Regions from separate parts of the Homo sapiens genome. Here region 1 is linked to region 2. A link means that fine-mapping ties the variant in region 2 to the expression of a gene that starts in the linked region. Tissue or cell type: whole blood. Region 2 holds a variant in brackets; the other region holds the start of a gene. All regions are shown on one strand. Distances are between the middles of the regions.

Region 1 (5,108 bases), 50 kb after region 2:
TGGATCACCTGAGGTTGGGAGTTCAAGACTAGCCTGACCAACATGGAGAAACCCTGTCTCTACTAAATAAATACAAAATTAGCCGGGCGTGGTGGCGCATGCCTGTAATCCCAGCTACTCGGGAGGCTGAGGCAGGAGAATTGCTTGAAGCCGGGAGGCGGAGGTTGTGGTGAGCCAAGCTCGCGCCATTGCACTCTGGCCTGGGCAACAAGAGAGACACTCCATCTCAAAAAAAAAAAAAAAAAATAGAACAACCCTTCTAAATGTAATCCACAGCTCACTCACCTTAGTCCACACAATGACCACCACATTTTGGATGTCTCCATTCTGAAGCACTCCCCAGATTTCCAGACCTGGGTGTTCAGCCACCTACTTAATGCCTACTTAATGTCTCTGAAACATCTCAAACTCTTACATGACCAAATAAAGCTCCTGTTGTCTCCAGTGAATATTACTGTTAATACCAACTTCTCCATCTCAGTTGAAGAACCATGGGGTCATCGCTGAATCCTGTTTCACTCCCTCGCTGTCTACATCAGAAAATTTAGTTGCTCCCTTTAAAAATTTGCATCCAGAATGCAACACATCTCCTAATCAATGACTCTGGTCCATTACCCTGGACTGGCTGTAGCTTCCACTCTGATCTTCTTTCCTCTTCCCTCAACCCCACAGTCTGCTCTCCACGCTAACGGGATGGACCCTGTTAGGACTTTGGTAAGATCACCTCCCTCTTGTAACCCAAATCTCTCATTACCTCCAGAATAGGTACCCAACTTCTCAGGCAGCCACTGCAGTCCTGACTCCTTCCCCCTGCTCTTTGTTCCCAGCTAAAAGGAAACAGATCTATGGTTTCCTCAAAAATCTCAGCTTAGTTTTACTAAGCACTTGCGCCTCCTGATACCAGTGCCAGAGATAACCTTTCACAAGTTTCCACTGGCTGACAAAAATGGGAACACCTCAGTATAACCCCTGTAACCTCTGGCATGGACTTAAGAGCCCTGGGCTTGGAATTTCTCCAGGGCACCAGACCCAGGATTGGGGTAACAGCACTTAAGAATACTAGGAAACCACAATCCCAAGAACATGGGGGTAGAGGCTACTGAGGGACCGAACACTCTCCACTTCCCTATGTGAGTTCCATACGCCCTTCTACAACTGGGAGAACCAGGGAAAGAGGAATGCATCCCTGGTGAGGCTAGATGAGCTCAAGCCTCCCTGTAGCCCTGCCTGGCCCTGAACTCAGGCTGGCTGTTTTACTTTCTGGTCTCAGTGCTGTCACCTCTTGCCAACTGTAGGGCAATGAAAAAAAGATGTAGCCTCCCACTATCTCAATGTCCTCATCGCCCCATCGCTGCTCTTCCTGTGAACAGTCTTTGGAAAAGTTTTTAAACCCTAACATAGGGCGGGCACGGTGGCTCACGCCTGTAATCCCAGCACTTTGGGAGGCCGAGGCAGGAGGATCACTTGTCAGGAGTTCCAGACCAGTCTGGCCAAAATGGTGAAATCCCGTCTCTACTAAAAATACAAAAAATTAGCCGGACGTTGTAATCCCAGCTGCAGGCTTGTAATCCCAGCTGCTGGGGAGGCTGAGGCAGGAGAATCGCTTGAACCCGGGAGTCGGAGGTTGCAGTGACCCGAGATCGCGTCATTGCACTCCAGCCTGGGCGATAAGAGCGAAACTCCGTCTCAAAGAAAAAAAAACTAACATAAATGGCGTCCCTCCTTTGTTCAGAACTCTCCGTGGCTTCTAGCATCCTCACAATGACAGTACAACCCTAGGAGTAACTCCGCCTCATATTCTTCGTTCCCTGCAGAAAACAGCTTTCCGAATTCTCCTGGCTCAGTCGCGCCTCAACCTTTGCACGCGCCGGTTCCTCCGCCTGTCACGCTCTCCCACACCTCGTCACACGCAGTGTCAAAAAAAGGGCCCCACCCACGAACGCCTCAGTGTCCCCGACCCTGGGCAGCGGGGACTCGAGCAGGCGCCCCTCACTGATGGCTTTAGAACGTGGGTGGGGGAAGGTGTGTGAGGACGGGAAGACGCCGCACTCACCTGAGTTGGCGTCCTCAGAGTGGCCGCTGCCATCAGACTCTGCGGGTAGAGCTGGGCCGGGAGCGACGGGCGACATTGGTAGGGACCCGGGGACAGCGGTCCCTATCCCAGGCCTGACGTGGGTCCCCCAGGGCGGCGTCGCCAAGGCTTAGACGCTTTCGTGCAGGAGGGACGACGACTCCCCTCACGCCTTCGTGGCCCCAACTCGGCGCTCTGCTATCTCTGATCCGGTGAACACACCTCAGAGAAGCTAAAATGGCCGCCACGAAGAGGCCCCCCCAAAAGTCCCGTCCTTTCTTTTTGTGACTCTCAAGGAAAGTCGGTTTTCTGAGCTCTTACTGGCTTAGTAGCGTGGCGTTCAACGCAGAGCATTCTAGGTAATGTAGTTTTCATAGATCCCGAGGTGGGTGCCGGGGACCCTTTGCACCAACCTCTTGGAGTAAAAGCGAAGCTCCAGGGCGCTGGGCGATGAGAAATGGCTTATCCAAGTCCTAGGGCAGTGGAGGGACTTCGCCCTTTCTTAAATGGGTCGTAATCAGACAGCATATTAGAGGTGCCATCTGCAACTGATCACCCAAGTGTTTGGGGAATATTATTTCAAACTTCATAAAGTTCAGCAGGCTCCCAGAGGCTAAAATTATTATCAGACGCTCCCTAAGGCTGCCAATCCAAATATGTACATCATTCCATAGAGCCATTCAGACACGAAATATATCCACTAGTAGGGAAGCTAATAAACATTACCATATAAGTTTATTCCTTTTTTTTTTTTTTTAAGACAAAGTTTCCCTCTGTCCCCCAGGCTGGAGTGCAGCGGCGCCATCTGGGATCACTGCAACCTCCGCCTCCCGGGTTAATCGATTCTCGTGCCTCAACCTTCCAAGTAGCTGGGACTATAGGCGCGCGCCACCACGCCAGGCTAATTTTTTGTATTTTCAGTAGAGACAGGGTTTCACTATGGTGGTCCCAAATTCCTGGCCCCAGGTGATCTGCCCGCCTCGGCCTCTCAAAGTGCTGGGATTACAGGCGTAAGCCACCGTACCCAGCCTCTATCATATTACATTTCAAATGTATGCACTCCGAAGCATTGAAGTCAGTCTGTGCACTTTTGGTCAGGGACAGGTGAAAAACTACTTCAGATAGTGGCATGATAGTGCTTCTAGAAGATAGAAGAGAAATGTTAGATCACCTTGAAACAGTAGTACAAAGGTAGAATTCTGTCTGATTCCAACAGAAAACATCTTTTGCCTGCATAGTCAATTATTGTGTCCAATTACTGTGTCCAGTCAATAACTGTGTCCAATTCACTGAGCAACGCTTTTATCCATTTCATAATTCTTACTTGATATCTGAGATATATTCCTTCTAGAAGTCTAACATCAATCTCAAAAAACAATGAAAGAAATGCTACTTTGATAAGAGACAAAGGGGAGAGGTGGGACTTCTTAATCAGAAAGCCGGTGAAATGCACTTGAAGGAAGTGAGAAATGAGCCATGTGGGTATTTTTAGAATAAATTCCAGGCAGAAGAAGCAGGTTACTAGAGTGCCTGGATGGATGGAGACTTCACAGGGCATTTCAGCATTGGAGGGCCTAGGGCTCCAACCCAGCAGGCCTTCATCTGCTTTGCTGGCTGCAGAGACACTCAGGGTATATAGGTGAGAAATCTCTTCTTTTTTTTTTTTCTTTTTTTTTGAGATGGAGTTTCACTCTTATTGCCCAGGCTGGAGTGCAATGACGCAGTCTTGTTTCACTGCAACCTCTCCACCTCCTGGGTTCAAGCGATTATCTTGCCTCAGCCTCCCAAGTAGCTGGGACTACAGGCGCACGCCATGACACCCAGCTAATTTTTGTATTTTTAGAAGAGACGGGGTTTCACCATGTTGGCCAGGCTGGTCTCGAACCACTGACCTCAGGTGATCCACGCATCTCGGCTTCCCAAAGTGCTGGGATTACAGGCATGAGCCACCGAGCCTGGCCGAGAAATCTCTGCTGCTTTGTTATAAAGTTTTGGAGCCGCAAAATAAATAGCACTCGAATATAAAATTTTCTTTTTAATTCTCAGCAAGGTAATGTACTTTTTTTTTTTTTTTTTTTTTTGAGATGGAATCTTGCTCTGTCACCCAGGTTGGAGTGCAGTGGCGCGATCTCGGCTCACTGCAAGCTCCGCCTCCCAGGTTCACGCCATTCTCCTGCCTCAGCCTCCCGAGTAGCTGGGACTACAGTTGCCCACCACCATGCCTAGCTAATTTTTTGTATTTTTAGTAGAGACAGGGTTTCACCATCTTGGCCAGGCTAGTCTTGAACTCCTGACCTCATGATCCACCCACCTCGGCCTCTCGAGGTGCTGGAATTACAGGCGTGAGCCACTGCGTCCGGCCCCAACATTTATTTTAATGTTCAGATTCTCCCAGATGTTTGGACAGTGGGAACTCATTAAAGCTGTGCTCTCTGCTTTTTTATGTCAATATTATTGATAATTTCATTACTTTCTAATCCAAAAATATTTTCAGGCTCATGTTGTACCCTTGCTATCCCAGCCCCAGAATCAGCCTCTTTTTCAAGGAGCTCTGGTTTTCTTCAATAGATAACAATGCTTGTAAATATTAGTAAGCATTAGCTGTGCTCTTTTCTACTGGTAAATCATTGATTATTAGGTCCTCTTGGAGAGAAAGCAGATACATACACATGCACGCACACATTTTTTTTTTTTTTTTTGAGACAGAGTCTTGCTCTGTCGCCCAGGCTGGAGTGCAGTGGCACGATCTCGGCTCACTGCAAGCTCAGCCTCCGAGGTTCACGCCATTCTCCTGCCTCAGGCTCCTGAGTAGCTGGGACTACGGGCGCCTGCCACCACGCCCGGCTAATTTTTTGTATATTTTTAGTAGAGACAGAGTTTCACCGTGTTAGCCAGGATGGTCTCGATCTCCTGACCTCGTGATCCGCCCGCCTCGGCTTCCCAAAGTGCTGGGATTACAGGCGTGAGCCACCGTGCCCGGCCACTTGCACACATTTCTATACAAATTTATTTCTACATCTATATTTACATCTGCAAA
Region 2 (5,209 bases):
GGCCAACTACAGCCTGGGAAAAATATTTGTGAAACCTCTATCTAATAAATGATGAGTATTCAGAATACGTAAAACATCCCTACAAATAGCATAAACAACACAATTTAAAAATAGGCAAAAGTTCAAGACCAGCCTGGGCAACATGGCAAAACACTGTTTCTACAAAAATTAGCTAATAAGCTGGGCATGGTGGTGTGTGCCTGTGGCCCCAGCTACTTGGGAGGCTGAGATGGAAGGATCACTGATTCCAGGGAGGTCGAAGCTTCAGTGAGCTATGATCAAATCACTGCACTCCAGCCTGGGCAACAGGGTGAGATATCATAGCTGTAATTCCAACGCTTTGGGGGGCTGAGGAAGGCGGATCACTTGAGGACAGGAGTTCAACATCAGCCTGGCCAACATGGTGAAACCTCGTCTCTAGTAAAAATACAAAAATTATCCGGGAGTGTCCAGGAGTGGTGGCAGGCACCTGTAATCCCAGCTACTCAAGAGGCTGAGGCAGGAGAATTGCTTGAACCCGGGAGGCAGAGGTTGCAGTCAGCTGAGATCGCGCCACTGTACTCCAGCCTGGGCAACAAGAGTGAAACTCCGTCTGCCCTCCGTCTGTCTGCAACAGAGCTAGACTCCATGTCAAAAAAAAAAAAAAGGCAAAATATTTGAACACATTTTTCACTAAAGATGATATATGAATGGTATATAAATGCATGAAAATAAGTTCAGAATTATTACTATTTAAGGAACTACAAATGAAAACCACAATGAGATACCACTACATACTCATTTTGATGAGTAACATTAACCGAATGATCACACCTAGCTGTTGAAGGTATGAAATAAACTGGAGCTCTCATACATTGCTGGTGGAAATGCAAAATAAATAAATTTGGAAAACACTGTAGCCGTTATTAAAGTTAGTTGTCCACTTATCATTTGATAAATTAATCTCATTCCTAAGTATAACCTCAAGAGATGGAAACGTGTCCATAGAAATACTTGTATAATCATTCCTCAGTATCCATGGGGGACTGATTCCAGGACCCCCAAGGATACCAAAACCTGAAGATGTTCTAGTCTCTTATATAATATGATGTGGTATTTGCATATAACCTGTGTATATCCTCCCACATAATTTAAATTATAATTTAAATTACTTATAATACCTAATACAATGCAAATGCTGTTTAAATAGTTGCTATACATTGTCACCTAATACAGTGTAAATGCTGTTTAAATAGCTGCTACACAATAGTTGTATTGTTTAGGGAGTAATGACCCAAAAAAGGTCTGTGCATGTTCAGTACAGATGCAATTTTTCTTCCAAATATTCAATTTGCAGTGGGTTGAATCTATAGATGCAGAACCCATGGATATAGAAAGCCAACTGATTTTGCGTGTTATCAACAATTTTCTTCAAAGCTAAAGACTGGAAAACAAAAACAAATGTCTATGCACATCTGAATGGGTAACTGTGTTACATTTATAAATAGAATATTCCTCATAAATGTCAAGGAGGGAAAAAAACATTAATCTGAATCTCAAAAGCACAAGTGAAGGAACCAAACTCAGAGGTCTATACAGAGTAAAATTTCTTTCAGATAAAAATCTAGAAATGGTAAAACTCAAGTGGCAAAATGCAAATGAGTGATCCTCAGATCTGGGCCTAGGAGGAAGGGGCGGACTGCAAAGGGCAGAAGAGTACATAGGGTGAGGAGAACCTTCTCTATCAGGATTGTGGTAGTGGTTACATGCTGTTTATATTTGTCAGCACTCATCAAATTATACACTGGAAATTGGGGATCATCCTATTTGTATTATACTGCACTAAATTTGTTTAAGGAAAATAATAATACACACCAAAAATATTCACGGCTCAAGAAGTAATATACTTCCTGCCGGGTGCAGTGGCTCAGGCCTGTAATCCCAGCACTTTGGGAGGCCGAGGCAGGTAGATCACCTGAGATCAGGAGTTCAAGACTAGCTTGGCCAACATGGCGAAACCCCGTCCCTACTAAAAAGGCAAAAATTAGCTAGGCATGGTGGCACGTGCCTGTAATCCCAGCTACTTGGGAGGCTGAGGCAGGAGAATCACTTGAACCCAGAAGACAGAAGTTGCAGTGTACCAATATCATGCCATTGCACTCCAGCCTGGGCAGCAGAGTGAGACTGTGTCTCAAAAAAAAAAAAAAAAAAAAGAAGTAATATATTCCCAAATTGCTCTCAAAAATACTCTTCCTTAATCTTATAAAGAACATCTGCAAAATCCTAGAGTAAATACAATAACTCATGGTCCATTATTAAAATATTTTCGGGACCAGAAACCAAAGGAGGATGGTCACTGTCTGCACATATAGTCAATTATATTGAAAGTCCTGTCTCATGCAATTAGGTGAGACAAGAAATATATAATCTGTAAAGAAGAAAGAAAGCTAAGTTCCTCGCCCCCTTAAAATATATCTTAAATGTCATTTTCACTGTAAGTCCTACTATGAACACCTGATTTACTGTTTCACCCCATCCTTACCAACTTTACTTCTCAGCTGTATCCTGCTCTATAGGACCCATCATTTTCTAATACACTATCAGCCGAATAACATGGGTGCTTTGCTTACTGCTTACTGTCTGTTTCTATCAACTAAGTCTAAGTTCCATGTAGGCAATTTTCTTTTTAATTTTGTGTGTTGATATACCCCATATAATGAAAAAATGACCTGACCCACAAAAAATATGCAATAATTTTTTTTGAGGGGCAGAGCCTTGCTATGTTGTCCAGGCTGGAGTTCAGTGGCATGATCACAGCTAACAGCAGCCTCGAACTCTCAAAACTCTTGGGTTCAAAGGATCCTCCTGCTTCTGCCTCCCAAAGTGCTGGTATTGCAAGTGGGAGCCGCTGCACCTGGTCTCAATAAATAGTTTTTGAAACACTGAAGAAATATGACATACCAATTTCCTATTCATTTTTACCTCTCCAGAAATTCTGTCTAATTCATTCACTGTCTCTACCTTCAAGTTACCTTTGTTCTATGGGATGA[C/T]TAAAAAACTCACACACAGCTCTATATTCTGCTACCAAAACCTTCAAAGCGGCCAGGAATCCAGCAGAGCCATATTCTCACCTTCATTCTCTTTCTCCTTAGATCTTGCTGTCCTCTGCTTACCTACCCTACAGATCAATTTTATTTTTACTTTTTCATTTTTTCCTACATAGGGTGCTCCTCAGCTACTTCTGTCATTCCTATTAGATATCTTTATGATTCACCATTAATAGTTTCAGTAATATACACAATACTCAAATGTTCTTCGCAAATAACCTCCATTCTCCTTACAGATGGTCGCTGCAATTACAGGTGAAGTGATAACCACTTCCCAGCAAAAAGGTGAGATCAGGGAGTTCCAAATCTTTATCTCAGGTTCAGATGTCCTTTCCACACCTGTACAGATGCCGTCACTCCATCATTCTGACACCAGATGCCAAGTGAGTAACTCATGCTTTTCAAGTAAGTTTCAGGTCCTTAGATGGAAACTATCTCAGAAAATTCAGTATTAATTGTTCTCTGTAAAACATTTCTGGGTTTGGAACACGAAAGAGTTTATATAGCAGGAAGGTCATTTGCTGAGAAAACTAGACACACATAGCATCCTGTCTATATGCCACAGATAAAGACTTGATGCTACAGACATGTTAAGAACAGTTAGATGACAATGGTAAGCTCTTGGTACTGTGCAGATACCTGGTGTCTGTGAGAGAGGTGCTGATATGTGCATTTCTTCTGTGAAACAGCAGGTTGTGCAAACTGGAATCTGTAATGTCTCCACATTCTGTCATCAGCAGAAGACTCTGAACATTTTTCTACCGTTTAAATGAGTCTCAATTATCCAATTTATAATAATGCAAATTTTACTTACAGATAAATATGGGGGAGTAGAGGAGGGTTGTGAGTTTCAGCCATGAAAAATTCATGGAGCTTAAAAATTCCTAAGTATCTCACCCTGCAAACAGATAATTATATTTCTAAAAGTGTCTTGACATTCTCATTCTCATGTACTCACAGTACTCTTCTCTATCCTCAAAGTTTCTGAATTGCTTCTCTGTTCCTGTCTCCTCTGTTATTCTGCCTCCCTCCTCCCTTCCTTGCCTAGTTTAAGTGGATTTTTAGCAAACAAAAGTGTTGACTAGAGGCTGTGAGTGAAGGGCATTTTTACCTCCCCTGGCCCCCAGTGTAGATTCCTCTTCTGTCTACACAGAATCCTTCAGATCAGGATAAAATTGAGCCTTCCTTACTAGTTACTACGATTTTTGAAGAATTGGTGTGATTGATAACCACAGCAACAGTGTTTGGACTTTAGAGAAACTTTATTCATGCCCACACTATGTCTACTGACCTACATTTTGTTACTTAAATTCATTTTAAGATTTCTCTTCCAAAAGTTTTCCAGTTATTCTCCTCTTTTGATTCATTGATCCCCTATATTTTTATTTTACCAGTAATTTCATAACTTCTCTTAATATTAAAATATTTTAATGAATATTTGGAATAAACGTATGTGTCTATGGTGAATACTCACTGGGACACACTATACCCCTCCTTCTTCCACAACCTCAACCTAAGGAAGGAACACTGTCTACAAGTGGTGAGGATCCTTCCAGATAGATTTCCATTAATTTACATAAATTTTGCAAGATCTCCCTTAACTCACCTCTGCTTGACTTACTGCTGAGTAAATTCTTTCTCCATATTCCCTTCATGTAACGTGCTAATCAGTGACCATAAATCACACATGATTGTTACTGGTAGAATCAATGCTTTCAACTCCAACACGTCTGTCTCCACAGGTTGATGTATATATTTATCAACAGGGAGTTTTCTCCTCCCAAAAGTAATGCCATTTGCTCTATTTATTCAATGGCATAAGTGGTTTACTGTAATAAAAACTACTAAACTATAATCACAAAAAGGAAAACTTTTTATTTTTATAAAGCCTAAATAAAATGTGCCAGAAACAAAAATTAGAGATTCTTTAAAAATGCTATTGAGGTAAAAGTGAGTGATAAAAGTAGACCTGTATAAATACAAGTCTGTGAATATTCTGTACTCAGAATTTTGACATCTTTAAGTGTTTTAGCTTACTTTAAAGAACTACCATGCTGGGCGCGGTGGCTCACGCCTGTAACCCCAGCACTTTGGGAGGCTGAGGTGGGCAGAAAATCTGAGGT

What was found. PIP is the estimated chance that this variant, and not a neighbour inherited with it, causes the effect.
Region 1: it holds the start of ZNF154, and the variant in region 2 is fine-mapped to the expression of ZNF154 in whole blood (INTERVAL, PIP above 0.99).

The regions. Positions count from the first base shown.
Region 1 is chr19:57,706,886-57,711,993 of GRCh38, forward strand. It overlaps ZNF154 (zinc finger protein 154), which reads right to left and starts at 2,319. Exons shown (of 3, transcript NM_001085384.3): 1 at 2,054-2,319. The coding sequence starts at 2,086. RefSeq lists enhancers at 1,907-2,546, 2,290-2,419, 2,440-2,499.
Region 2 is chr19:57,656,662-57,661,870 of GRCh38, forward strand. It overlaps a transcript of ZSCAN4 not described here. Among named protein-coding and RNA genes, the nearest start is that of ZSCAN4, 9.7 kb to the right of the region's middle. The variant C/T (reference allele first, on the strand shown) is at 3,030.